Linked DNA regions of Homo sapiens. The protein of the gene in region 4 purifies or fractionates together with the protein of the main gene of each other region. This does not show direct contact. Each region holds a gene or a part of one and is shown on either strand. Other genes may lie near its edges.

Region 1 (7,378 bases), on a different chromosome or scaffold from region 4:
AGGTGTGCTCTGGATGGGCTCTTTTCACCTTCCCTTTCTAATTATGTTGCATGTTATTATACATATGATGAGAATCTATGCAGTTTTTCTGTTTGTTTGGATGTTTTTTTGAGATGGAGTCTTACTCTATCACCCAGGCTGGAGTGCAGTAGTGCCATCTTGGCTTACTGCAACCTCTGGCTCCCGAGTTCAAGTGATTCTCCCGCCCCAGCCTCCCGAGTAGCTGGGACTACACGTGCACACCACCACGTCCAGCTAATTTTCGTGTTTTTAGTAGAGACAGAGGTTCACCATGTTGGCCAGGCTGGTCTTGAACTCCTGACCCCAGGCAATCCGCCCACCTCGGCCTCCCAAATTGCTTGGATTATAGGTGTGAGCCACCACACTCAGCTTCATAGTTAGTTTTTTGAGTCAGAATTTCACTCTGCCACCCAGACTGGAGTGCGGTGGTACAATTTCGGCTCACTGCAACCTCCGCCTCCTGAGTTAAAGTGATTCTCCTGCCTCAGCCTCCTGAGTAGCTGAAGCTACAGACAGACACCACCACACCTGGCTAATTTTTGTGTTTTTAGTAGAGGCAGGGTTTTGCCATATTGGCCAGGCTGGTCTCACACTCCTGAGCTCAAGAAATTCACCCGCCTCCGTCTTCCAAAGTGCTGGAATTACAGGCGTGAGGCACTGAGCGCGATGGAGAATCTATACAGTTTTATATCACCACCACTCCCCTCAAAATGCGCTGAATTTGGTCAAAAACCATTACTTCTCCCCTTCGCCTGGATTCTGAATGGTAGCATTCAGGTGTCGAGTGGTTGGAGTGTCCTAACTTTGACCACCATCGAGTGCTGTCCTTTCCTTGGGTGCTAACCCACTGCTTCTCCTGGTTCCCAGGCACCCCAGCCTGCTGTCCATGTGCAGGCCAGGAACCCCTGACTGCCTCCATGCTGGCGGCAGCACTTTCCCAAGAACAGAAGCAGGTGCTGAGTGAGTGACCCACGCGCCTACGAAAGAAGAGAGGGCCAGAAGCTGGTGCTGACGCAGACACCAAGGTTACTGAGATTCCGTTTGGTTTTTTATGAACTATCTTCCCCACAGGAGACATTTGTTCCTCCTTATCCAAACAATGCATTCAAACTTGGCTGTAAAGATTGTAGGAAGAGATGCACAGGGCAAGGTGGGAATGGAGAGGGGCTGGTGAGCTTCCATGCCCTCTCTAGGCATGCTGTGTTCCAAGCACATCAATGTATTCACCAACCTGGAAACTCCCCAAACCGCATTTAGAGTGTTTATATGAGGTTTCATTACCTAGGCATGGCTGATTAAACCACTGGGTGTTGGTGATTGAACCCAATTTCCAACCCCCTCCTCTCCTCAGAGGTTGGAGGCGGGAGCTGGAAGTCCCAACCCTCTAATCACATGGTTGGTTTCTCTGATGACCAACCCCCATCCTGAAGCGAGCTAGGGGTTCTACCTTGAGTCATCTGCTTAGCACAAACTTAGGTAGGGTCAAAATGGGCTCATTATGAATAACAAAAGACACAGCACTCAGGATATTCCAATGATTTTAGAAGCTCTGTGCCAGGAACTAGGACAAAGACCAAGTATCTATTTTTTATTATACCACACCACATAAAGGACGCCTGGTCAGATTCTTCCTGAGAGTGACCTTTTGTTTTGGAATAGTGACGGGTACACAAAGAGCTCTCCTAATCAGATCTCACAGCCTCATTCCTATAAGTATCAACTCCCTGGTTTGGCATGAGGTTGGTAAGGTCAGCTGTGTGCGCAGCCACTGCTTAGCTCTGGGAATACAATGGGTACAGGCCGTGGTGTCAAATACCTTCATCTACTGGGAGAGAGAGACATACCTGACTATAGTTATAGGGTGTATTCCAATTGACTTCTGAACTTGGGGACTATGGACTCTGTCTATAGGGGATTTGGGTGAGTGAAGCTTAACTAGGACCTCTGACAAGGACTGGTGGGTGCCTCCAGATGGAGAAAAGAAAGAACTCAATGAGCAAAAGCAGAGGCAAGGAAAAAGAGCCCATGGTAAGTAGGTGAGGAACTGATGTGGAGGTCAGGGTTGACTTGAGGTAGGCATGGACCCCTTGTCAAGGACCTTGTTAGCAGCATCAGTGATTTAGGTAGGGAGTTCTAGAGAATTTAGGTTTATTTTGAAGAAAGATAACCCTAGGCCGGGTGTAGTGGCTCACACTTGTAATCCCAGCACTTTGGGAGGCCGAGGCAGGAGGATCGCTTGAGTCCAGGAGTTTGAGACCAGCCTGGGCAACATGGCAAGACCCTGTCTCTAAAAAAAAAAAAAAAAAAAAAAAATTAGCTGGGCATGGTGACGTGCACCTGTACTCCCAGCTGCTACTCGGGAGGCTAAGGTGGGAGGATCATTTGAGGCTGGGAGGTTGAGGCTGCAGTGAACCATGATCATGTCACTGCCTTCCAGCCTGGGTAAGAGAGCAAGACCCTGTCTCAAAGAAAAAAAGAAAAAAAAAATCACCCTGGACAAGTGGATTGGAGGAACAGAGCCACTATCAACTCTTCCTTAGTCTACTACATTAACTTCCTGGTCTCCTGGGTTCCAATCAACCCATCCTGGGCCTAGTGTCAGAGCACTGTCTAAAATGATGTGAGCATGTAACTCTCCTGTTGTAACTTCAGCAGCTTCTCAAAGCTCCCAAATCTTCCAGAAGGCTTACAGCACCCTCATGATGTGGCCCTCTGCCTACCTTTCCCACCTGATATGCCCTCCACCCCACCATCCCAGGCTCTGGTCTTTTAGTTCCTTGAGTGTGCGGAAGCTGCCTCCTCCTCTCTCTGGCTCCTTTTCCTTCAGAATTCAGCTTAAATGTCACCTCAGGAAGGTCTTAACCCCCTGCTCCATATAAAATAGATGGTCCCATTATTTCCTACCACTATGTCAACCTGTAATTTATATATTAGTGGGTTTAGTCCAAGATGTTACTCTAAACTGCACCATTTTGTAAGCTCCCTGCTATTCTGCAGACCTTGGTCAAAGTGAAACATTTCACAGGGGTTTGGGCTGTGAGAAACATCCTGCCTAACCACCCGACCACAAGGCAGACAAAGGCCCAACTAAAGAAACATCCCTCTCATATCTTCCTGGGCAAAGGTCCAAGGGACACCATGATGACATCCCACTGGAACAAGGGCCAAACCGCCTCATCATGAGAACATCTTTATATCAATATCCTGCTAGGCAGCAACCCATACTGCCCAGACCCCTACCGCCCATACCTATAAATTGCCCAGTCTGTAAGCAGTGGTGGGCACTGGCATTAGGCTGGTTCCCCACTTCTGTAGGTTATTATGCTGGACATAAAGCCTGCGTTTGCTGTCGAGCCGCCCTCTTTCTGTGTGTGTGTGTGTGTGTGTGTGTGTCTTTCTTTAACCCTTGCCTTCTTTTCAAAACCTAACACGAGTAGACAAACGTTCTTTCTGAAGAGCCAGATTGTAAATATTATTGTAGGCTTTGCAGGCTATAGCTCTTCTGCCCTTGTAGTAGGAAAGCAGCCACAGTCATACTTAAAGGAATGAGCGTGGCTGTGTCCCCATAAAGCTTTCTTTACGGACACTGAAATTTTAATTTCACATAATTTTCATGTGCTAAGAAAATATACATATATATTTTGTGAGATGGTGTGTCGCTCTCGTCACCCTGGCTGGAGTGCAACGGCGCGATCTCTGCTCACTGCAACCTCCGCTACCTGGGTTCAAGCGATTCTCCAGCCTCAGCCTCCTGAGTAGCTGCGATTACAGGCGCCCGCTACCACGCCTGGCTAATTTTTGCATTTTTAGTAGAGACGGGGTTTCACCATGTTGGCCAGGCTGCTCTCGAACTCCTGACCTCAGGTGATCCGCCCGCCTCAGCCTCCCAAAGTGCTGGGGCTACAGGCATGAGCCACCACGCCCGGCCAAGAAAATATAGTTTTTTTATTTTTTCCAACTATTTCAAAAGGTAAAATTCATTCTTAGCTCCCAGGTTGTCCAAAAACAGACGCGCAGGATGGCCAAGCACCAGAGTTTATCGTTTGCCCATAATAATCGGGTTGATTCGGCCAAGGTTTCCCTCCCCCAACACGGTGCGCACTGGGAAGCGCGAGGACCACGTCCCTTGGTTTACCACTGCGCACCTCACAAGGCGCCCAGTGCATCCGGGTAGCGGGATGCCGGTTGGACCAACGCGAGGGTGGGCGGGGTCTAAGAGCTAAGCGTTGGGGGCGGGGCGGGACAGTGGGGAAGAGGACGGGTCGAGTGCTGGCTTCCGGCGGAAAAGCGCGCGAGCAAGATGGCCACCACCAAGCGCGTCTTGTACGTGGGTGAGCAGGAGGGGTTGCTAGGCGGAGTCTGAGTGAACGCGACCCCCAAGGGTCGGGGCGTGGGGTGGGACGCATCTCTGAACCAGGAGGACGGCGAGCTGCTGTCAAGGCCGGGTCTCTGGCGGTAGTGCTGGCGATAGCTCTGGCTGTGCTTAAACTCCTTCCAAGGTTTCCCACTGTCCTCAGGAAAAAGTGCAGACTTCTTAGCAGTACGCACTTCTCCAGCTTCTTTGCTTTGCTTCCCGATTCGCTGGGTCTCCCGAAAAATGACCCACTTGCCCCCAAGGTTCAGGTTATTTCACACCTTTGGGCCTCTGCTTTTGCGACTCCCTTGCAGTGAACAGCCTTGCCACACACCTCAGGTGCGTGAACCCGAGACGGAATGATTATTCTGACTTCCTAGCCCGCTGAGCTCCAGCGGGCCCCGAGGAGCGGTAAAGGAGTATTATGGCCCTTCGGATCCTCTCGTTCATTTGTTTTACAAACATTCAGTGCAGCGACGGCTCAGCCCCAGCCCCTGCCATAAAGGAAGGAGTTCCCAGACTAGCCAGAAAAAAAGTGGAATTACCTCAGTAGCACACTTTTGATAAGCGCTGTAGTGAGGATGGATCATGATAATATGGGCCTGGCTGCGGGACAAATGACCCATCCATCTGGAGAAGCGAGGGCAAATTCTGGATGCGGCGATGCCAGAGCTGATGAGCAGGAGTTAGCTACGTAACCGAAGCAGAGGCAAGGCCGTTCACTGCAAGGGAGTCGCAAAGGTGTGAAATAGCCTGACACTTGGGGGCAAGTGGGTCATTATTCGGGAGACCCAGGAAATTAGGAAGCAAAGCAAAAAAGCTGGAGAGGTGGGTACTGCTAAGGAGTTTGCACTTTATCCTGAGGACAGTGGGAAGCCTTTGAAGGAGTGTAAGCGAAAAGTTACGGGTTCAAATTTGCATTTTCCTAAGATCATTCTAGTTGGCTTTGTGGAGTTGATGGAATGGAGGCAGGGAGGTCAGTTGTGAAGCTATTGCAGTAATCCCAGGACTAGATGAGAGTCTGAAAGAAGGGCGAAGAGAGGAATATTTTTCATAAGTATGGGTGGGCAGAGATGAGAGGGGGATGTTTGTTTACCCAAAGAACTGAATGGAAGGGTCCTGTCCCCTGGCTAGCATGCTAACTGGGCTGCAAGGACTTCTGCAAGAGTATGGAGATCAGTGGCTCAGAAGGCCCTTGGCTTATTTGCAGGTGGACTGGCAGAGGAAGTGGACGACAAAGTTCTTCATGCTGCGTTCATTCCTTTTGGAGACATCACAGATATTCAGATTCCTCTGGATTATGAAACAGGTGAGTTAGTGTCTCTCACGTTCAGAATCCTCTTACTAGGAAAATACCTTAAAAAATTAAAGTCACATCACAATTCTAAATATGCATTCTAAATATGGTTAGTATACACTACAGGTAAGTTCAGGAAGGTGTCTGGTGACAGTGATCTCGATGGAGAAGGAATGTTCTGAGGCCATGTGGTTGTGAACTCTGAATACTTTCCAGAGTCTTCAGCTGTTGGGTTGAGATAAGACAGATTTTTCAATAGACCAGTAGGGAGATAGGTTTGAACTACATTGAGATTTGAATGTTGTTTTAATCTACCTGATGGGTACCCCATCCCACCTGCACCTTCTTGCAGCTGTGCTATTAAATGAGGCAGCGGGAAAGCCTAGCCCCATAATGGGGGTGGGTGAGGGCGGGGGTTCTTGGCCTCTGCACCCCTGGGTGGGTTTCCCATCGATTGGTATCACAACCACAGTTCAGTTTTCTGTTTACCTTTGTTGTCATTTTTAAGATTATAGTTTTAGGCCTAGTTTTATCATCAACCTTGCATATGATTGTTAGCAAAGTCTTTAAACTCTCTGGGCCTGGGAAATCTTTATTTGCAAAATGATAAGGTTATGTTGGCTTTCTAAGGGCCTTCTAGTCTCTGAGTTCTATGATAAACATTATTGTGCTTGGTCTTTCTAGTTAGTTCAGCATTTTCCTGAAGATAAAGACTGAGCATCTTTATCAGGTTTTAGGATTCATGCTTTATGCACAGTTGATGCGCAAAATATATATTTAGATAGATAATTGATAGGTCAAATGACTTTATTTTTCTAATTGCTTTGCATGCAATGGTTAAGGTTTTAAGTTTGGCTTTCGTAGAATAATTGAATACTTATCAATTAAAAATACAGTTTACTATTCAGCTATGTCCATTAAAAAAACAAAGTTTATTATTGCTTAAAATATTGTATAAGAAGAATCAAGAATGAGATTCCTTCTTCCTAAATAGTGATTGGATAGAACTTCTGGTGTTTGGATACGACATGTAACTGACTTCACTTTGTGACCATCCTGTTTCTTCCCACTACCCCACATAGTAATTACTTGTTTTTGTTTTTCCATTTTGTAGAAAAGCACCGAGGATTTGCTTTTGTTGAATTTGAGTTGGCAGAGGTGAGAGTCTGTGTTACTAGTGTCTAGTCCTTGGTTTGTGATGTTGTTACTGATTACAAAGGAAGCTTTTCACCATTTGGTTAGGTTTTTGGGCCTTAGGCTGATGCTTCCAGAGAGATCAGAAGTAAGTGCTGTTCTAAGGAAAGCGTCTCTCACATAATCAGACTGGACTGTGAATAACATGTCAGACCTGCCAGGCCCTCCCATTCTTGCCCTGCAGAGGAGCTAGCTCATGCACCCCTGTTCATTGAGCATTCTTGCCTGGAAGTAGTGATTATTTCTTGTGCCTTCAACTAGATGGCAAATTGTTGCACCACCAGCTCTAAAATCAGCCAGGAAGTGCTCTTTGTTAGAAACACACAAAACCTAGGCAAGAAATACAGAGGTGGCATTTTTCTGGATTTTTGCTACTGAGCATGTGTTTAGACACCATAAGAAGCATTTGGCTGCAAGCCTAAACTTGTACCTTTGTCTTTCCTTGGCAGGATGCTGCAGCAGCTATCGACAACATGGTATGGCTGGGAATCTTAATTCTAACTAAAGTTGCT
Region 2 (6,992 bases), on a different chromosome or scaffold from region 4:
AAAAGCAGACTGAAATCCTGCGTGTCAGTCACAGACCCTCTGAGTTATCAGGCCAAGTTTGCCTTCAGGCTGAGACGCTTCTACAAGACACAAGCAGGTCTGAACACAAGCAGGTTTGCCTAGGCACCCCCGGCCCAGCTCCCAGGCATCCTGAGTGCCAACAGGGAGGCCAACTGTTCTGTACCCCGCTCTCCCTCTGGCCTCCCACCCTTGCTCTCCTGGAGCTGCAGCCTTGGCCCTCTAGGGTTCTGCAAGGCTGACAGGCTTCCTTCCCTGCACTCACCAGACTGAAGTGTTCTCACCACCAATGTCTTTAATCTTTTGTCCAGGAATCTGCTTGAAATCTCAATTGCTGGTGGAACCTCTTCTGTGTTTCTGCTCGTTGCTCCTCTGTCACTACTTATTATGATGTGGGTCCACCCTTCCTGCTCTGCCCCGTCTCACCCGTGCCCAGTGTATTCTGCCTTTCCTCACCCTGTGTGCCGCTCTCCCTTGCAGATGGTAGCTTCCCTTGCATATTCAAAACTGCGGCTTCCCCTGAGTAATCAAGCCCCCTCCTAATTCCCAGCCCCCCACCAAGACAGGGGTATGGTCAGCCCTGAGGAATGTGTGGCAGAGATGAAAAAGAAAAAAGGGTGAAAAACACAAGGGAGACAAGGAGCCCGAGAGGCCGCCTCACCCCACTTTCAACAGCTCTGGCTACTGGGCAGAGCCAGCCTCATGTCCTAACGCTCAAGTTTTAAGTACACCCTGGAAACCAAACCAAGCAGGGCTATCAAGTCAGGAACAACCTTCTGGGGAAAACAGAGCAGTGAGGAAGAAACCGAGGTGCCCACTATCAACAGGAAATTAATTTTATTTTTAAATCCAAGGGGCCAGAACAAATGAGACACCTACCCTTGGAGGACAAACTCAAGTGGCCAAGGTTGGGGGAGGGGATGACAGCAAGGGGCTGGGCAGGAACGCGTCCAAACACAGCAGATGGAGAGGACGACCTCTTCACTCCGGCGCAGCCTCCATCAAATACCCATTCTCCGGAGCCAGGTAGCCGTCGCCGCCCTCAGACTCCATGTACATGTCTCGGCTGTCGTTGCCCAGACCCTCCAGCCCGTTGTCCTGGCCACCGCCCCCACCTCGGGCCTCATCCCTGCCCCGCTCACTGCCCCGCTCCCCCCGTTTGTGCTCGCGGTCACGGTCACGGTCACGATCCCGGTCCCGGCGCCGCTCGCGCTCGCTCCGGTGGCTCCGCCGTCGCTCCCGGTCACGATCCCGGCCCTTTTCCTCTGGACCGTCAGGGCCGTCAGGCCCGAGCTCCCCTGGAGGCCCATCATCAGGGGGCGCGTCACCCGCCTCGGAGGGCTCCGCCATGTCGCCACCGCCGCCACGCAGCTCCTCCTTGCGCTCCCGCTCCCGCCGGGCCCGCTCCCGACTCCGGCTGCTTCGCCGCTTCCGGTCCCGGTCCTTGTCCTTGCTCCGCTCCCTGGAGCGCCTCCGCTCCTCCTTGTCGCGACTCCGTGAGCGCCTCCGCCGGTCCCGGGAGCGGGAGCGTCGCCGTTCTCGCTCCTTGTCTCGCTCCCGGCTCCGCTCTCTGCGCTCCCGCTCACGGTCCCGGTCCCGGTCCCTGTGCGGAAGCGGGGAGGGGCCGGGCCTGGATGAGGTGGGCAGACCTGTGTGGCTGGGCTCCCCCCGTGACCGCCCCCCACCCCAGGACACCGGTCGCCCAATCTTACCTCTCATCGTAGCGGGAGGTGTCATCGCGGCCTGAATGCCGGATGTTCACATCAGCCCCTCCTCTTCTGGTACCACCGAGGCCTCCTCCTGGGGCAGGGCAGACGGACAGAGGGTGAATCTGGGCAGGGACAGGGCCCGGAGGAGCAGAAATGAGCCGACTCCAAGAGCAAAGGGCAGGAAGGCAGCCCCTGGCTTAGTGTTCACAGGGCCGGGTCCCCCCGTGCAGTTCATCCCGCGCACTCCCATCACAAGACAGCCACGTCTTCTCTAATTAACTCACACAAAGCGTTCGCTAGGCAACAGCCGTTACTGGAACCCATGTCTGGCCCCAAAGCGCATCATCTTAACCATAGCGCACTTCACAGCCTCCTCAAAACCCTCCCTTCCAATCATCCTCGCCCTCACAGAAACCCGAAGCCAATGATCTTTCCACCCAAAAATGTGATCTGCTTAGAAGCCTTTGCTGGCGTCCCCCAGCCTAAGGTCCAAACTCCTCGTCAACTGGTGGTAGAGGCAGCAAGAGCGGGCCCTGCTAGCGTCTGAGCCGCGGCTCTTGGCTGCGTGTCCCAGGCCTTTCCCAGTGTCCCCACGCTCACCTTCCTGCCAGTGTCTGTGCATTCTCCTTGCCCTGGACTGGTCTCCCCTTCCTTCTCTGGTGAACTCACGCTCACCCTTAACGCTAGCCCGAACATCCTTTCTCGGGAAGTCTCTCCTCACAGTCCTATGTACTCACAGTTGCAGAAACGCTTCCTTCCCCTGGAGTTTCAGGTTTGCTACCTGAGTCGACCCCTACCTGCCTCTCCCACCAGACTGCAGGGCACCGGAACCGTGGGCATGCCCAGCTCTTGCTCACGGTACCAGCAGGTGGCGCTGCAGCTGGTATAGAAAGGTGGATGTGTGTGTGTCAAGTGAATAGATAGATGAACAGCCCCAAGGCACAGATGATAACCTCATGGTTCTGATGGGGAAACAATCTCAGATCAAGTCACTGGCCCACAGTGACTCAGCAAAGAAGGTGCAGAACTGGGCTGTCACTGCCGTCTGCTGCAAAACCTGCCTTCTCAAGCGCTCCTCTATCTCGCACTGCCTGGAAAAGCTTCCGTGAGGCAGGGCTGAGTTCTGTATAGAAAAGAGGCTGCAGGGAGACATTCTTATAGAAGCAGGCAGCGGACCAGGCACCTGCCATGTCACAGGCACAGGGCAGCTAGACTAGCCTTTCCTATATTCAGGTCATGACCCAGAAATGAGTCCCATCATCAATCTGATGGGTTGCAACCAACATCTTAAGAAACAAAACAGCAGAATACAACTATATACTTACTACATAGAAAAAACTGTTTCCTCAAACTTTAGGTTACAGTATTTCTGCGGGTGCACCGAGTCAAGATGTTATTGGCTAACACCAACAAAAAGTTTGAATGGCAATTGAACTAGAAGATTCTGAGATTCTGGAAAGACTGAGATTCTAGCATTTTCCCGCCCCAACAGGAAACAGCAGAGCTATAAGAACCCACTCCACCCCAGAGAGACCAGAGTAAGGTAAGAACATGCCTGGTAAGCTCCGAGGCTCAGCAGCTGAGAGCGTGGTCTCCCTAGCACAGGCGAGTCCAGAGCCAGGACACAGGGCTGGGAGGCAGGACAGGAGCCCCAAGTGGCTACTACTGCCTGGGTGTCTGCCCAGGGACCATCATCTTCTCTGACAACTGTCACTCAGCTTTGCAGGATTCAGTCCTCAATAAGCATGCCTGAGCAACAGGACCCCAGGCCCAACACTGAGTCAATCAAATGTGCCCACCCCGAAACAAGAGACTCATCCAGGACTGAGTGTAAAGCTGGGGCCTGTGGCCTGCTGCGCTGGGCCAGTGCAAAGAGGCATGGGACCGACCTAGCTGCATGGAGGCAAACGAGGCAGAAGCAAGCTGTGGGCTGTCACACATCACAGGTGGGTCGCCCCAGTTTTTTTGTTTTTTGTTTTTTTTTTTGAGACAGAGTCTTGCTCTGGCACCCAGGCTGGATGGAATGCAGTGACTCTATCTTGGCTCACTGCAACCTCTGCCTCCCAGGTTTAAGCAATTCTCTGCCTCAGCCTCCCGAGTAGATGGGATTACAGGCACCCGCCACCACGCCCAGTTAATTTTTGTATTTTTAGTAGAGATGCGGTTTCAACATCTTGGCCAGGCTGGTCTCGAACTCCTGACCTCATGATCCACCCGCCTCGGCCTCCCAAAGTGCTGGGATTACAGGCGAGCCACCACGCCTGGCCTGGTTGCCCCAGCTCTTAACAGCGTCAGCTACCAGGTTCTCAGGTCCACGGACATCACATACCTCCGAACTCCAAAGGATGCCCATGATTCTACATCAACAGGGCCCTTTATGTTTCAGGAAGCTCAAGTTTATTTCTGATACTTGCAGCCAAACTGACCTTGCCTGAGACAGCAAATGACAATGAGGAGACCGAATGCAGGAGGCTCAGAGGGCAGAGGCTGCCTCTGTGTTGCTCAACTAGAAGCCCGGCACACAGCTGGTGATCCAATAGGTACTTGCTGAATCAGTAAAAGAGTGAACAAGAGCAACAGCAAGCAGCAGAAGCAGATGAGCGAGTGACATTTACAACCCCAGCATGCGTCACTGCCAAGCTGGGCGCCCAGTACACTGAGCTCAGTGAACTCGGGGTTATTTCCACTAAGAGGAGTACAATGAGGCAGGAAAAGGGGACCCCCAGCTAGCAAGGGCGGACGCCAGCATGTGGGCTCAGGCCTCTCCAGGCTGGTGCCCCTGCTCCTCACAGTAACCCAGAACGAGGAGGCAGGCAGCTGTCAGAAATGTGATGGCCACAAGAGAGAGAAGCCGGAGATGAGGACGCGATGGGAGAGGTGGGCCGGCAGGAGACAGAGAAGCAGAAAGCAGCAGAGAAGGGAGAACAAGGCCACCAGGCCCAGGGCCCCCGAGAGCCCGTCGAAGGCAGGATGTGCTCACCTAGCCGCCGGGGCCTCCAGCCCTTCACGGTTCGGCCCCTCTCCACGTCCACAAGGACCCTCCTGCCATCAATCTTCTTGCCATCTGCGTGTTTGTAAGCGGCTGTAACAGATGTGGGGAGGGGGAGGGGAGAGGAGTCCCCAGAGGGTCCTCTAGTCAGGACAGGCCCAGCTCTACAGAATCCCCGCCCCGTGTCCCCATCATCACGCACACGCACACGCCCAACAGACAGCCAGGCAACTGACAGCCAGACCAACCCTCTCCCAAACCGGTGAAGGGCCTGCTCCATCTCAGCGTCTGCTTCCTCTCAGCGCCCCAACCACTCCTGGTCGGGGGAGACGTCCACCCTCACCCGCCACCCCCTAGGCTCCCCGGCCCTTCCTCTCCCACATGATGGAACAGCCCCCTCCCGCCAGGGCGGCCAAAATCGCTGCAAAGAAACTGAAGGTTAACTCCACGCTGGACTCTGCTGTGGGGGAGGGGGCTCCTCCACAACCCCAAGCATGCACCCTGAGACACCAAGCCGGGGCAGGAGGCCCAGCTGGGACGCTCCGCACCCCAGACCACACCGGTTTTTTCTGTTTTTGTTTTTTTTGGAGGGGGGTGAGTGTGGGGGGAACAGACATCAGAACAGAAAATGAACCAGAAGGGGGTGGGAGAAATCTTCAGGAAATGGCAGGGAGCAGAGAGGCGGGTTATACACTCCCAGGGGGCCTGGCGGGGCCCCTGCAGCAGGGGAGAGGGGCAGTGGAGGAAGCATGGGGAGCCGTGCGGTGCTACTGAAAATCCCTGCCTTACCTGAGACGACTGACTCTGCCTCCCCCCAGCCCTGCCCCATCTCGCCCTCCACACCCCCGGCTCAACACGTGCTGGGAGCGCACCCCAGCCTGAGCCTGCCAGGAAAGGGGAGTCGTAGAGGGGAGACGGGGGAGAGGCTCACTGCTGCTCTCGGGCAGCGCGTAGCAGAAGGCAAGCCTGAGGCCCTGGCCTGTGATCAACGTGGGGCTGTCATGAAGGCCAAAAAGTCCCCGTTCCCCCACCCAGCCCTGGCCTAGGGGGCTGTCCTCAACCAACCGTAATACCCTGCCCCGCCCCAGCCCGCTCCCCCCCAAATAACAACCAGAGGAAGAGAAAAAGGTGCCATTTACCGATGCCGGCCTTGCGGGTGTCCAAACCGAGCGGGATGGGGGGGGCTCGGCAACTCCTGGGGGCCTGGCGAGGAGGCGGGCTTCCCGGGGGGGGGACACGGGACCGCTTACCTGGAGCCCCCAAGCTTACCTGAGCACGCGCACAGACCCCACACCCACCACCACGGGGTCAGCTAAAGCTACAGGGAGGGGAAGTGGGGGGTTCTAGGGAGCCAGGAGAGGGAGAGGAACCACATCTCCTGTACCACCTGGAGACAGGCAGAGGACGTGGTAGACCCCAAAGAAATCTCAAGGAGGCCTTAGAGTGGGGGAGACGAGGATTATCATCCAAGCTGGGCGCTGGAAAGCCCTGGACTATCTCGTGTGAATTTACAAAGAAGGCTAGGGAGGCCTCAGAAACCTGTCCGCCCTCACCAATCCCCGAGTCACACTGAACTAGGCACACAGCCCACCCCCTCCGAGGACCAGGAGTGACTTCTCCACCTCCAAATCCATGCTCCCTCCCACCAGCTGCGTCTGCAGAGGCTGGCACACAGGGGTCCAGGAGACGGTGCTGCCCGTGCTCTGAGGAGGGGCCGCTTGGCCCCTGAACCCACGGGAGGGGAGTGGGGAAAGGCATTTAAGGACCAGGATCAAAGTCAAGCGAAGGAACCCCGCTCGGGTTCAGAGTCCCAAACCCCAAAACAGGCCCATCCCGGGAGGAACAGCAAAGAAAACATGTGATTGTGTTCGTCTAGGCCTCTCTCTCTCTTTCCCTCTCTCAAGTCTCTAGACAGTGGAAGGTTCTTTAGTAAAAACCTACGACACCTTCAGCTGCTAGCAGCCTACCCCTTGGTCCCTCCCACACCCCAAGCCCCAATTCCATGCACTTTAGGGAGCTCCTGACCACCTCTGGAGAGCTGCTGGACACCACAGCCAGCCCCCTCGGGAGGCCTCAACCACAGTAAGGAAGACAGAAAGGGGGCAGAGCACCCCAAAACTAGCAGCCAAAAAGACTCTCCAGGGCCAGCACAGTAGCAGCCCCATAGAAAGCACGGGGGCAGGGAGGGAAGGCTGAAGGGCTCCAGTGGAGCCCTGGCCTGGAGCCCTGCCCTCGGTGTTCCTGCCACCTCGCCGCTGACATCACGAAGCCGGGTC
Region 3 (7,338 bases), on a different chromosome or scaffold from region 4:
AAGGAAAATTGCTTTTTCCCCTTACCTGGTGGTTCTGTTAAATGAATCTGCATAACAGTAATCAGGCTGGCATCCAGATAATCTGTCTCAGGTTCCTTTGTGTACAGTATTTCCACTGGATATGTTCGACCTGGGATGGTGAAAATGGGAGCTTCATAGAAGTATTGAGAAAACTTCACTGCATCCAAGGTGGCTGAGGTGACAATCAGCTTCATGTCCTGCCGTTTCTGAACTGTCTGAAGAGAAATATTATGTGGCTTACTGAAAAGGACTACCCAAAGACACAGGTACTCAAATCCAACTGCCAGAATTCAGCTTCCAACAGGTAGAGGGGTCATTAAAGAGCATCTAGTTACCTTTTTCAACAATCCAAAGAGCACATCAGTGTGAATTGTCCTCTCATGTGCCTCGTCCAACATGATGATCGCGTACTGAGTGAGGTCAGGGTCAATCAAGCACTCTCTAAGCAACATCCCATCTGTCATGTACTTGATGACTGTTTCAGGGCTAGTGCAGTCCTCAAATCGAATGGTGTAGCCCACCTAAAGCAGAAGAGAAGGGGAAAACCTAGGATACAAATGTCTCCTTTTCCCAATCACCAGGCAAGATTTCAGCCCAGTCACTCTCACTCATAATCTTAAGAATCTGATCAAGATGTACAGTAATTTCCTCATAGTAAGGTATGTCTTAGACTATACTCTGAACAGACTGATTATGACAATGGGAACCCTCTCTCCCTCAGGAGAAACCTGAAAAAAGGCAGTATTATTAATATTTCCATTTGATAGATTAAGAGACCTGGGCCTTTGCTTCTGGTATTTTTCGAGCGACTCCACTATCTACTTACCTCTTGGCCTAAGCAACAACCAAACTCCTCTGACACTCTTTTGGCCACCGACATAGCTGCCACTCTTCTGGGCTGGGTACACCCAATCTTGCCCCTGGAAGTGTAGCCTGCCTCCGCCAGGTACTGGGTGATCTGTGTTGTCTTTCCAGATCCTGTCTCACCAATGACAATCAGGATCTGATTGTCATGGACGGCCTGAAAGCAACAGAATATAAATATGGTCATTAAAATCTGCCAGAATATAAATATGGTCATTAAACAGAATATAAATATGGTCATTAAAATCTACATTACTCTGGAATAAAATAATTACTATATTCTAACACCAAAGAAAAGAGGAATATACACATATAGTTAAAGAAGTCAACAATGAATTTAAAAGATACATAAAAAATGTTCCTTCCCACTGTAACTCCCAAATTTCTATATCTTTCCCCAAAAGTTATTTCTTATTTCTACGTTGTTTGTAACAGCCAAGGATTACAATCAACGATGTTTCTATGGATATAGGACTAGTTAAATAAACCAGAGCCTATCCAAATAATACAGCCCATAAAAAAAGGCTTTTTTTTTTTTTTTGAGATGAAGTCTCACTCTGTCGCCCATGCTGGAGTGCAGTGGCATGATCTCAGCTCATTGCAACCTCCACCTTCCGGATTCAAGTGATTCTCCTGCCTCAGCCTCCCAAGTAGCTGGGACTGCAAGTGCCCGCCAGCACGCCCGGCTAATTTTTGTACTTTTAGTAGAGACAGGGTTTCACCATGTTGGCCAGGCTGGTCTCGAACTCCTGACCTCAGGTGATCCGCCCGCCTTGGCCTCCCAAAGTATTGGGATTACAGGTGTGAGCCACTGTGCCTGGCCTGGCAATTTTTTTTGTTTGTTTGTTTAAGAAGGCCAGGCACAGTGGCTCATGCCTGTAATCCTAGCACTTTGGGAGGCCAAGGAGGGAGGATTGCTTGAGTCCAGGAGTTCAAGACCAGCCTGGACAATATAGTGAGACCGCATCTCTACAAAAAATACAAAAAACTAGCTGAGCATGATGGTGTATGCCTTGTAGTCCCATCTACTTGGGAGTCTGAGGTGGGAAGATCACTTGAGCCCAGGAGGTAGAGGTTGCAGTGAGCTGAGATCAAGCCACTGTACTCCAGCCTGCACAAAGCGAGACTCTGTCACACACACATACACACACACACACACAAATCTCTGAGATATATCATTAAGTGGAAAAAGATGTAGAACAGTGTATATAATATCACTGCCACCTGTAAACACACACAGTACTCATATAAAATGTGTGTGCGTGTGTGTGCATATATTTGTACTTGCTTGTATACATATAAGATATTGTTGAAAGGATTCACTAGAAACTAGTAAACCTGATTACCTCAAGGAAGACTCGGTGGTCTTAAAATCAGAACTCCAGAATATAGAGTACCGAAGCACTCTATGAGTTGCCCATATGAGTTTATTGACTGAGTATCCTCATTTTTAATTACTGAACAGAGCTGTTGGTCCATGCAACACAATACTCTGCCCACTTGGAAACTGTTCTAGGGGCCCCAGGAAAAAGAAGATATACAGACACATACATAAGTATGTGTGTCTGTACACGCACACACAAACATTTGTGATATGGGGTCTCACTTGGTCGCCCAGGCTGGAGTGCAGTGGTGTGATTGCAGTTCACTGTAGCCGCGACCTCTCAGGCTCAAGCAATCCTCTTATCTCAGCCTCCCGAGTAGCTGGGATTACAGGCATGGACCACCACACCCAGGTAATTTTTTTTTTTTTAGACAGAGTCTCTCTCTGTAGCCAGGCTGGAGTGCAGCGGCGTGATCTTGACTCACTGCAACCTCCGACTCCCTGATTCAAGCGATTCTCCTGCCTCAGACTCCAGAGTAGCTGGGATTATAGGCATGCGCCACCACGCCCAGCTAATTTTTTGTATTTTTAGTAGAGACAAGGTTTCACCGTGTTGGCCAGGATGGTCTCGAACTCCTGAACTTGTGATCCGCCCACCTTTGCCTCCCAAAGTGCCGGATTACAGGTGTGGGCCACCACGCCCCACCAAATTTTTTATTTTTTGTAGAGACAAGATTCCCTATGTTGCCTCAGGCTGGTTTCAAACTCCTAGGCTCAAGTGATCCTCCTGCCTTGGCCTCTGATGTGCTGGGATTATAGGCATCCACTACCGCGCCCAGCCCCATTTAAAAAAAAAGTATTTAGAAAGTTTTATCCTTCTTTCTTAACTCTTTTGGATGAGCCACTTCAAGTAGGCACATACTTGTCCCGTTAGTTTCAGTTTAAAAATATCACCCCTCTTTTAGACAATAACCCTACTCCCCACCAATACATCATAAAAGTCTTCTCACCTGGACCAATTGCTCCTTCAGTTTGTAGATGGGCAGGCTCTCCCTCTGCTCAAGGATTGACATCTGGGTCTTTTTTCCGTAAGAGGCTTTGTTGCCCCCAAAGGCATGCTTCTTCCACTCAGGAATATCATTGGGCATCATCCCAATACCCCTCATGTTGGCAGCAATCTGTCTGCCTTCCGCTGGAAAGGAAAACAGGCAACTTAGTATTGTCCTCAAGCTACCTCAAGATGTACCAGGAAAAAAATAAAATGGCATGCGGGCACTGCACATGCAGCATCTCAATTCAGCGACCCGTGATCAAAAGTACTCAAAGAAACAAATTAATGTGAAGAAAAGAATATAGAAGGGGCAGCAGGGAATGGGAAAGAGACTGTAACAAGTGGTGCTACACACCTGTGATGTCAGAAAAAAGGTTAGTTGAGAGAAGTGAAGACCTGACTGCTTGACACTGGAATTATTTTTTTTTAGGTAGGGTCTTGCTCTGTCATCCAAGTGGGAGTGCAGTGGTGCAATCCTGACTCACTGCAGCCCCGACCTTCTGGGCTCAAGCGAGAAGAGGTCACTCTATGTTGCCAGGCTGGTCTCGAACTCCTGGGCTAAAGCAATCCACCCATCTCACCCTCCCAAAGTAATGGAATTACAGGTATGGCCACCATGCGCAGCACTCTCCCCTTTTTAAATAACTGCTATATCGAGATGTAATTCACAAACCATGTTACACTTTTTTTATTTTATTTTATTTTTTTGAGACAGGGTCTTGCTCTGTTTCCCAGGCTGGAGTGCAGTGACGCAATCACGGCTCACTGCAGCCTCAAATTCCTGGGTTCAAGGAATCCTCTCTCCTTGGCCTCCCAAAGTGCTGGGATTACAGGTATGAGCCACCAAGCCAGGTCTCCGTGTTACTCTTTTTAAGTGTTTAACTCAGTGTTTTACTGTATATTCATTAAGTTGTGCAACTATCCCCACTATTTAGAGTATTTTCATCATATCAGAAAGAAACCCTGTACCCATTAGCAGTTACTCCCCATTCCTCCCTTTTCCTTTCCCTTGGCAACCATTAGTCTACTTTCTATGTCTACGGGTTCTATTCTGGATACTTCATACAATATGTGGTCTGTTGTGCCTGGTTTCTCTCAGATTAATTTTTTTCTTTTTCTGAGACAGGGTCTGGCTCAGACGCCCAGCAGGCTGGAGTGCAGTGGCGAGATCTCAGCTCAGCAACCTCCACCTCCTGGGCTCAAGCAATCCTCCCACGTTAGCCTCCTGAGTAGCTGGGAATACAGGTGCACGTGATTACACACGGCTAAACTTTTTTTTTTTTTTTTTAGATGGAGTTTCGCAATTGTTGTCCAGGCTGGAGTGCAATGGCGTGATCTCGGCTCACTGCAACCTCCGCCTCCCAGGTTCAAGTGATTCTCTTGCCTCAGCCTCCCTAGCAGCTGGGATTACAGGTGCGTGCCACCACATCTGTTAATTTTTCTGTTTTTAGCACAGATGGGGTTTCACTATGTTGGCTAGGCTGGTCTCAAACTCCTGACCTCAGGTGATCCACCCGCCTCAGCCTCCCAAACTGCTGGGATTACAGGCATGAGCCACCATGCCTGGACTAATTTTTGTATTTTTTTAGAGACAGGGTTTCACCACATTGCCCAGCTTGGTTTCAAATTCCCCAACTCAAGTGATCTGTCTGCCTCAGCCTCCCAAAGTGCTGGGATTACAGGTGTGAGCCACCTTGCCCAGACCTAGCTTATATTTTCAAGATTCACCTTGGAATTGTGGCTTGAGGAGCAAAAAAAAATGAGCAGAATTTTAGTGGCTCTCTAGCATATGCAAACATTTTACAAATTTGATGCCAAAAGCTGGCTACGAAAAAATACTTATGCCTACTAACCAAATAAGTGAGCTTAGGCAGAGGCCAAAGGAGGGTCATGGAGAACATTTCACTAAAGGGTAAAAGGGAATGAATGGGTTTATTCTGAGGAAATGGAAGATGATATTGTTAAACAATGAACGAATATGTCCAACCTTCTACTGTAAATCTAATATTTTGGTTTTTATTTTTGTCGTTTTTAAAAATTTAATTTTAAAATAGAGACAAGGGCTAGGCACGGTGGCTCACCAGTAATCCCAGCACTTTGGGAGGCCAAGGTGGGCAAGATCATTTGAGGTCAGAAGTTCGAGACCAGCCTGACCAACATGGTGAAACGCTGTCTCTACCAAAAATGCAAAATAATTACTCGTGCGTGGTGGCGGTCACCTGTAGTCCCAGCTACTTGAGGCTGAGGCAGGAGAATCGCTTGAACCCAGGAGGCAGAGGTTGCAGTGAGCCAAGACTGCACCACTGCACTCCAGCTGGGGCAACATAGTGAGACTCCATCTCAAAAACTAAACTAAACTAAACTAAAATAACAAAACAAAACAAAATAAAATAAAATACAGATAAGGTCTTACTATGTTGCCCAGACTGGTCTTGAACTCCTGGCCTCAAGCAATTCTCCTGCCTCGGCCTCCCAAAGTGTTGGGATTACAGGCGTGAGCCATCATGCCGAACCTAATCTAATATTTGAATCTCTATTACATGCAGCCAAACTGATATCTAAATTAACACAATTCCCAAACTTCTGTCTCCAGCCCAGACCTCTCTTCTGAGCTCTTATACTCAATTCTACACTGGATACCTCAACCTAAGATGTCCTCTAGTTGCCTCGGACACAAGTCCAAAACGGAATTTGACCATCTTTCCCCACAAACCCATTTCTCCTCCAGTGTTCCCATCATTCATCCTAGTGCTCATACCAGAAACCTGGAAGTCATCTTTGACCATTCCTGTTGCCCCACATTCAACAAATTACTTTTCTCAAGTACATCCCTCCTCTTTGCTACCTCCATGTTCAAGCCACCATTCTCTCTCTTCATAAAAGCTTTCTAAATCATCACATGTGCCCCATCCAACTCATTCTGCAGGGCACCCTCAATCATCCTTTGGAAATGCAACTCTGGTCATGCCATGTGCCAGCTGCAAACTTTCAACATCTGGCTGGGCACGGTGGCTCACACTTGTAATCCCGGCACTTTGGGAGGCTGAGATGGGGGGGGGATCACCTGAGGTCGCGAGTTCGAGACCAGCCTGACCAACATGGAGGAACCTCGTCTCTACTAAAAATACAAAAAATTAGCTAGGCGTGGTGGTGCATGCCTGTAATCCCAGCTACCTGGGAGTCTGAGGCAGGAGAATCACTTGAACCAGGGAGGTGGAGGTTGCAGTGAGTCAAGATCATGGTGTTGCACTCCAGCCTAGGCAACAAGAGCAAAACTCTGTCTCAGAAACAAAAACAACAACAACAAAAGAACTTTTCAACATCTCCCAGTGCTATTAGAATTGAGCCCAGCTTCCTAATGCCACCTACAAAGCCCTGGCCTGATGTTCTTATCTCATCCCCTACCACTGCCCACTGCTCTCTCTATTCCATCCACACAAGCCTTCTTTCAGTTCCTTCTTTCCCACCCCACAAACCCAACACGGGCTACTCCTCAGGCTGGAACATACTCCCCAACCTCCATCCCATCTCCACTTGACAGACTGAGTCCAATTTATCCTTTGGGTCTCGATTTCCCCAGGGAAGTGACCCACCACAGTCAATTACACTGCCTGTACTTCTTCACATGGCACTGATCATAATTTAATTATTTGGTGATTATTTAATTAATATCCATATCCCCGACTAAGTTGTAGCGCATAAAAGCAGGGATCATATCTGTTTAATTCAAATCGTATCCCCAGTTGCCAAACACAAATTAAATTAATAAGTATTTGTTATGACTATATCTAGTAGCTAATATTTACTGCACAAAGAATTATATGAAAAAGGAAGCTTCAAAGCTGTATTACCTTTAGAATAAAAATTTTTTTTTTGAGACGGAGTCTCACTCTGTAGCCAGGCTGGAGTGCAGTGGCGCGATCTTGGCTCACTGCAACCTCCGCCTCCAGGGTTCAAGCGATTCCCCTGCCTCAGTCTCTCGAGTAGCTGGGACTACAGGCGCGCACCACCACACCTGGCTATTTTTTGTATTTTTAGTAAAGACGGGGTTTCACCATGTTGGCCAGGATGGTCTCGA
Region 4 (7,338 bases):
AAAATAGACCAAGGGTGCTGTCATTTTTAGTCATTTGTCTTTTGACTTGACCCTTTTTGCCTTCTTCCAGACTTTTGAAGATAATATAAGAAAAAACAGGACTGTGATTAGTAACTGGATAAAATACGCACAATGGGAAGAAAGCCTAAAGGAGATTCAAAGGTAAAATTACTGAGAGTGTAGTTTTGTATATAATGATTCATAGATTAACAGATACCAAAAAGAAAAGAAGAAAAAGTTAAAGCACAGGTAAAAGATTGTGCCTCGGGTAGAAATTTTCAACTTTGGTTCCATGGAACCCTAGGGTTCCCTTGAGGGCCTCAGGAGTACTGGGGTAGAATAGTCCTGGGGAGGGTGGCAGAAGAGGCTTTAGAGATAGATCTTGTCAGTTGTAGCTAAAGAAGCACAATTTCATTTGCTTTGTATATATTGAGATTTTTACAAATTTCAGCTAAACAATGGCCAAAAAAAATAAAACCAATGGCCAAAAAAAATAAAAATTGCAATCTGGCCCTTCCTGTGGTCTAGCTTTCTGCATTCTCCCCGCATACCTCCTTCCCCCACTGTGCCTGTGTATGTGCCACTCCCTGAATATATCATGTCTCCTTATCGTGAGGCTTGACTGTTCTCCTTGCCTGGAATGAGCACCCCCTCCTCACCAAACTTAGTTTCCTGGTAAATCGGAACGTTCCTCAAGTTCTCATTTCTACAATTACCTACTACTTAGCCTTTTCCACCAAACATTTTCATTTCTTCCTCTCTGTTTCCCGTGCAGATCTTGACTATAACATAAATCACATTGCATTATAATTGCATGCATGTCTTTTTATAAGACTTTGTAAGGTACTTGAGAGCATTATATCTTTTCATTTTTTTATGCCCAGAACTTGGCTCATGGTAGACACCTAATAAAACATCAGTGCATTCCAGATAGTTTGAAATAACTGCTACATGTGTTGAATGCTCTATTTTTGATGCCCTGCAAATCTTGCTTCTTAAGGGCTCGATCCATATACGAGCGTGCTTTAGATGTAGACTACCGAAATATTACACTCTGGCTGAAATACGCAGAAATGGAAATGAAGAATCGCCAAGTCAACCATGCTCGAAATATCTGGGACCGGGCCATAACAACGCTGCCTCGAGTTAATCAGTTCTGGTAAGTTTCTGATCTAACAAAACAGCCTTTTATAGACTAGCAAAGTTCCACATCTTCTGTATTTATTTTATTTACATGATGATAGTTTAATTTGATATCCTACTTTTTCTTCAGACATAAATGCTGTTATGTCCCATAGTCTATTAAGTCATAATCGTAATGTTCTATAGCTATGTAATCAAAACTAAAATTTTGATTGCAATCTTTTATTCATAAGCTTCTTGTTGAACTAGGCAACTTTTAAGAAAAAAAAATCTTTTTTTCCAATGGTTCATCCTTTTTCAGATTTACATACAAATGACAAAACATGTTTGATTTAACCTTTAAGAAAGGTAAAATCTTCAATCTTCTTCCCATTCAACAATGGAAGAACTAAACCACAGCAGATATTTTCGGGTGATTTTGTTACAGGTACAAGTACACGTACATGGAGGAAATGTTGGGAAACGTTGCCGGTGCCCGGCAGGTGTTTGAGCGCTGGATGGAGTGGCAGCCTGAGGAGCAAGCCTGGCACTCCTACATCAACTTTGAGCTGAGATACAAAGAGGTGGATCGGGCCCGCACCATTTATGAGCGATATATCCTTTGGACGAGATCTGTATGGTGCCATGATTGTCCTGGATGCTGCTGCTGCTCCTGTAGAGATGTCTCATGATCAGGACACACAGTCATTAATGTCAGGCTCAAAGTCAAGAATGCCAGTTTATCAGCTTCCCTATGTTTTGTAGGGAAAGAGATTGGTCAGAATGAAAATTTGTATTCTGGGTAACTAGTCTTTTCTAGTGAGAGTTTGGGTTTATTTTATTGTAATGCTAAAAGCTAATGTTTCCTTGTGGAAAATGATATTCCTGGGGGATTGTTTCCAGGAACTCAAGGGGATACCAAAATCGGTGATGCTTAAGTCCCTCATATAAAATGATGTAGTATTTGCATGTAACCTATGCATAGCCTCCCATATAATTCAAATAATCTCTAGATTACTTATACCTAATGCAATGTAAATGTTATATAAATAATTGTTATTCTGTATATTTTAAGGAATAATAAGCAAAAAAACGACATGTTCAATACAGAAGCACTTTTTTCTCACGAATACTTTATCTCAGGTTGGTTGAATCCACAGATATGGAACCCATGGCTGGAGGACTAACTGTACTAAGGTCCTGGCTGCCATTGCCAGTCCTGTTTTTCTAAGGTTTGTGTTGGTCATTACTACCTTACTGGAGTTCATCCAAGGTTTACTGTTTACTAGCTGTGTGGCTCCAGAGAGTCATTTAACTCCTTTGAGAGTTGGTGTCCTCTTCTTAAAAACAAGAATAAAAACACCTTTGTTGGGCTGTTGCGAAGATTAAATGATACACATGAAAGCACTTTTAGAAACTGAAGTACAGTCATTCCTCACTATTTGCAGATTCCATGTTTGCAAAATCACGTATTTGCTAAAATTTATTTGTAACCCCCAAAATCAGTAATTGTGGCACTTTCACAGTCATTTGTGGACATGCACAGAGCATGAAGTCCAACAAGGTGAGGCTTGCCTTCTGGTCTTAACCTCATATAACCATGCCTAGAGCTTGGAGACAGGAAGGGCCAGTGCCATGTAGTGCAAGGAGCTGTGGCTCTGGGGCCAGTCGGGGAGTTTGAATCCCTGTCAGTGGGGCAGCCTCAGTCCAGTCACTTAACATTTCTGAACCACTTTTCTTACAAAATAATGAAGATAGAATCTGCCAGGATGAGTTCTTTTTAGGATTTAAGATGATGATGAATGTGAGATTGTATATATACACGTTTCTCCTAGGAGCAGTGGTTCAGTACTCAATAATTAAGTGTTCGCATTGACTAAATAGAACATAACTACCAGAAATAATGAGAGTCAACTTTATTATGCAGTATTAAGATCTTTTTATTTTTTTACTCTTCTCTGTTGAGGTGACAATGTTAAGATCTTAATTATGTCTACTAATTTTAATATTATTAGTTTGACGAAAGCTTTTATAGCACTTGCTACGTGCCAGGCAGTATTCTAAGTACTTTACAGATATTGTTGTTTAATCCTCATAACATCCTTGCAGTGTAGGAACTTCTCTGTCCTACAGATGAGGGAGCTGAGGCATGAGAGATTAAGTAGCTTGACTGGGTTCTCACAGGTGCTGATGGAAATAGAATGTGAACCTAGTAGAGCAGCTTCAGAACTGATGCTCTTCTTTGCCATATTGGAATATATTACTACTTTGGAAATTAATGATTTATTCAAGGAAGATAGATTAAAATGACAATTCAAAACTTTCTGCTTTGACTCTAGTTAACAGTTTTCTTTTTATAGCATGTTTTTTTCTTAATTATTAGTTCAAGTATTCATATTTTAATATAATTGGTGCTATTTAATGACCAGACCATTATTGACCGCTTACGGTGCCATGTTCTTTTGGCTAGAAACTGTGCTAAGGGCTTTACATACATTTTCTCATTTAAAGCTGGCAGTAATCCAGTGAGGCTGGCATTATTTTTCCCTGTTTACAAATGAAACAGCTGAGACTTAGACGTCTAAGTTCAGTGACTTATCCAAGATCACATGGTTGGTAACCTGGGTTGAGATTTTTCTTTGCTTCCAACTCGAGTTTATACCCACCACTAAAATCTTAACTAAGCACTGGAGGAAAATAGAGATGAACAGGCGTGGCCCTGCTCTCACAGAAGCCACTGTTTAATTCTACACTTTTGTATGTGTTTTGTTCCCCTAGAGTTGTAGTTTGAATTTTTGGAGTTTCCAGGCTTTGGTATGGTTTTGGTGTTTACTTACTTACTATTTTTTTAAGCCATGCTGTTTTGCCTGGGATTTCCTTAATTCCCTTGCACTTGTCCTCGTGCACCCTGATGTTAAGAACTGGATCAAGTATGCCCGCTTTGAAGAAAAACATGCTTATTTTGCCCATGCACGGAAAGTGTATGAGAGAGCTGTGGAATTCTTTGGAGATGAACATATGGATGAGCACCTTTATGTTGCCTTTGCCAAGTTTGAAGAAAATCAGAAAGAGGTAAGTATACCTAACTTCATTATACTGTAAAACAGCTTAGCAAAGATTACATTTTGTGCATGGTGAGTTCATTTCCATTTTTTCTTACTGACATATCCCTGGAAAGATGTTTTCAAAATACAAAAACACAGCTTCTCACAGAGAACAGCATATATATGTGACTAAGCTACAGATGGGAGCTGATTATAGATTGTATTATAACTGTCTTAATTTTATTGTGCTTTGTTTGAAAATTAAGCCTTTTAGTCTGAATGCCCGTAAACTGAGAACTAGTCTTTTGGCATCCTAAGTAAAGGACTTAACCGATAATAAATATGGGAAACAAAAAGCTTAAAGCCCTAGAACAGAAAACATTTAGAATGGAAACAGAGATTGCCCTACAAATAAGAGAGTTCTTTTTTTCCCTTGTACCTATGAAAATAGCTCAAATATTGAGAAGATGAGGCAGAAGGATCACTTGAGGCCAGGAGTTTGAGACCAGCCTGGGCAACATAGTGAGACCCTGTCTCTAAAAAAAAAAATTGAGTGGGCATAGTGGTGCACACCTACAGTCCCAGCTACTTGGGAAGCTGAGGCAGGAGTATCACTTGAGCCTAGGAGTTTGAGACTACAATGAGCTATGTTCGTGCCATTGCACTCTAGCCTGGGTGACAGAGCAGGACCCCATTTCTTAAAAAAAAAGGGAGTTCAAATAATACAGAATTGAGATCCATCCAAATACAGGTTTGAGCATTCCCAGTCTGAAAATCCAAAACTCAAAATGTGAAACTTGTTGAGTGCTGACATGACACTCGAAGGAAATGTTCATTGGAACATTTCAGACTTCGGGTTTTTGGATTAGGGATGCTGAACCAGTAAGTATAATGCAAATATTCCCAAACTGGGGAAACATCCCAAATCCAAAACACTTCTGATACCAAATGCTTCAGACAAGAGATACTCAACCTATATAAGGTCTTGCACGGACCATGCTAGGGAGTTCAGATTCTGTTCGGGCCAGTGGGAAGCATTGAAAGGTTTTAAGCGGGACAGTGATTGGATATGATTTATATTTTAAGGAGAGCCTCTGGCTAATTCATGGAGAATGTATGAGGGTAGATGGCAAAAGTGGAACCAGGGGAGACCAGTGGGGAGACTTTTGAAGTGGGCCAGGTGAACAGTGGAGTTTGATGGCTGGGGGCTGGGGAGAAGCAAATGGCTGTGTGGAAGAGATTGAAATGGTAGGGCATGTTGCAAGAGTGAATATGGAGTATGAGGAAAAAAGAGGAATTGAGGATCACCTGAAGGTTTTGGCTTGAGCAAGTGACTGTAGGTTAGGCCTTGCCTACTAAAATTGGGAAGATGGGGAGAGTCCCAGTTTGAGTGGGGAGGAAACAGAAGCTCAGTTTTGGACCTGTTTGAGATGTGCAGTAGACATCCAGTTGGCAGTGTTAGGTAGACAGTATTAAATATGGAGCTCAAAGCAGAGTACCGGTCCATCCTGACAGAGATAACCTTCAACAAGAGGGAGAAAAGCATCTTACTCTGGATATTATGAGGCCTCAAAATCTAACTTATAAGTAATATTTTGTTATATTTACTCTCCTAGTTGTGACTGGCATGAGAATATTGTGTTATAGAAGGTAATCATCCTGTCTGCATTTAGTTTGAAAGGGTACGAGTGATTTACAAGTATGCCCTGGACAGAATTTCAAAACAAGATGCCCAAGAACTCTTTAAAAATTATACCATCTTTGAGAAGAAGTTTGGTGATAGGCGGGGTATTGAAGATATCATTGTGAGCAAACGGAGATTCCAGTACGAAGAAGAAGTGAAGGTGAGCACTGGTGTGGATGGTCAACTCTGCAGATAACCCAAGATGTGCTCATCAATACTAGCAACACTAAAATGAATAATAGCAAGTAGCACTACTAGTGATTACTCTCGTGATGATGTGCCCGTGATCCAATTGGCAGCTATTTCAGACAAGTAGGAATAAACAAGGCTGATAGAAAAGGCAAGCAAACAACACTTGGATTTGCTCTGCCACTTACATGTTGTAAGTCGTTTTGTTGATTGTTGACTGTATGTAGAACTGGAGCAAAAGAAATGTGGAATCCATTCGAGCTCATTGTTGGAAGAAGGTGGAAGAGTCAGAGATTGGTCCAAAAACCTGTTTTGCACATCACCTTTGAGCTTAACTGCCTGAACAAAAGATGTATGCTAGACAGGGTTCCATCGGCATCTCTTTTTCTGTAATGTACTATTTTGATTTCAATTCAAAGAGAGTGTCATTTTCCTTCAGTATTCTGTTGTGTATTTAAAAATACTCTTCCTTAGTCAAGTTAATTAAGATACCTCCAAGCAAAGGACTAAGTCTGTTATTAAATGTGGTGGTAGGTTAGCAAGATATGTTAAAGATGAATTGCTATTAATTGGAAAGGCAAGTTTAACAATTGTGAGCATGATACGATTCTGTTGTTACAGACATAATGATACATAGTCACATATTTAAGCAAATGCATTGGCAAGAATAGGCATCTAATTATTGACTGTCGTGAGAGTGATGGCTATAGATGAAGGAGTCCTTGCTGTGGGACACCTGGCCAGTAATCTATCCTCTGTATTCCTGTTTCTTTTCTATTTATGCAGTCTCAGGGATGGTGTTTTTAAAATGAAAGAACATGTAACATTTAGAAGAAAAGGTGCTAAAATATAGAAAGTCAGCCTGATGCCTTTTTTCAGCTTGCTTAACCTGGCAAGTGCAGCTCTTGGTTTTGTTTTTTATTTATTAAACTGGTTGTCTTTCTAGGCGAATCCACACAATTATGATGCATGGTTTGATTACTTGCGCTTGGTAGAAAGTGACGCAGAAGCTGAAGCCGTGAGAGAAGTCTATGAAAGGGCCATTGCCAATGTCCCACCCATTCAGGAGAAGAGGCACTGGAAGCGCTACATTTATCTTTGGATCAACTATGCACTCTATGAAGAATTGGAGGCAAAGGTGAAAAAACAGAATTATGTGTCAGCTGATAATGGTTTCCTGTCTTCTGTATTCACAGCTCACCTATTGTGGATGTTTGTAATTCTTGAAAGAAGGAAATTTAGTTTTAAATTTTTATAGGCTTCTGTTCATCCATACAGTTATATATTCGCTCTGCAACA

The links.
Region 1: the proteins of CRNKL1 (region 4) and PPIE purify together in Homo sapiens (affinity purification with mass spectrometry; 5 studies listed by BioGRID and IntAct, with this or other methods). This does not show direct contact.
Region 2: the proteins of CRNKL1 (region 4) and SNRNP70 fractionate together in Homo sapiens (co-fractionation; 2 studies listed by BioGRID). This does not show direct contact.
Region 3: the proteins of CRNKL1 (region 4) and DHX8 purify together in Homo sapiens (affinity purification with mass spectrometry; 5 studies listed by BioGRID and IntAct, with this or other methods). This does not show direct contact.

What each region holds. Positions count from the first base shown.
Region 1 is NC_000001.11:39,734,580-39,741,957, forward strand, and holds the start of PPIE (peptidyl-prolyl cis-trans isomerase E), read left to right. Parts: upstream 1-4,302; 5' UTR 4,303-4,321; coding exon 4,322-4,352; exon of another isoform or gene 4,353-4,714; intron 4,715-5,585; coding exon 5,586-5,684; intron 5,685-6,786; coding exon 6,787-6,830; intron 6,831-7,315; coding exon 7,316-7,342; intron 7,343-7,348; exon of another isoform or gene 7,349-7,378. UniProt on the Homo sapiens protein: Involved in pre-mRNA splicing as component of the spliceosome. Combines RNA-binding and PPIase activities.
Region 2 is NC_000019.10:49,102,451-49,109,442, reverse strand, and holds the end of SNRNP70 (U1 small nuclear ribonucleoprotein 70 kDa), read right to left. Parts: intron 6,017-6,992; exon of another isoform or gene 5,856-6,016; intron 4,810-5,855; coding exon 4,708-4,809; intron 1,819-4,707; coding exon 1,731-1,818; intron 1,649-1,730; coding exon 1,000-1,648; 3' UTR 839-999; downstream 1-838. UniProt on the Homo sapiens protein: Component of the spliceosomal U1 snRNP, which is essential for recognition of the pre-mRNA 5' splice-site and the subsequent assembly of the spliceosome. SNRNP70 binds to the loop I region of U1-snRNA.
Region 3 is NC_000017.11:43,500,707-43,508,044, reverse strand, and holds part of DHX8 (ATP-dependent RNA helicase DHX8), read right to left. Parts: intron 3,402-7,338; coding exon 3,220-3,401; intron 1,043-3,219; coding exon 848-1,042; intron 543-847; coding exon 357-542; intron 237-356; coding exon 26-236; intron 1-25.
Region 4 is NC_000020.11:20,042,164-20,049,501, reverse strand, and holds part of CRNKL1 (crooked neck-like protein 1), read left to right. Parts: intron 1-70; coding exon 71-162; intron 163-1,000; coding exon 1,001-1,159; intron 1,160-1,570; coding exon 1,571-1,737; intron 1,738-1,739; exon of another isoform or gene 1,740-2,354; intron 2,355-3,975; exon of another isoform or gene 3,976-4,015; coding exon 4,016-4,194; intron 4,195-5,839; coding exon 5,840-6,010; intron 6,011-6,985; coding exon 6,986-7,177; intron 7,178-7,338. UniProt on the Homo sapiens protein: Involved in pre-mRNA splicing process. As a component of the minor spliceosome, involved in the splicing of U12-type introns in pre-mRNAs.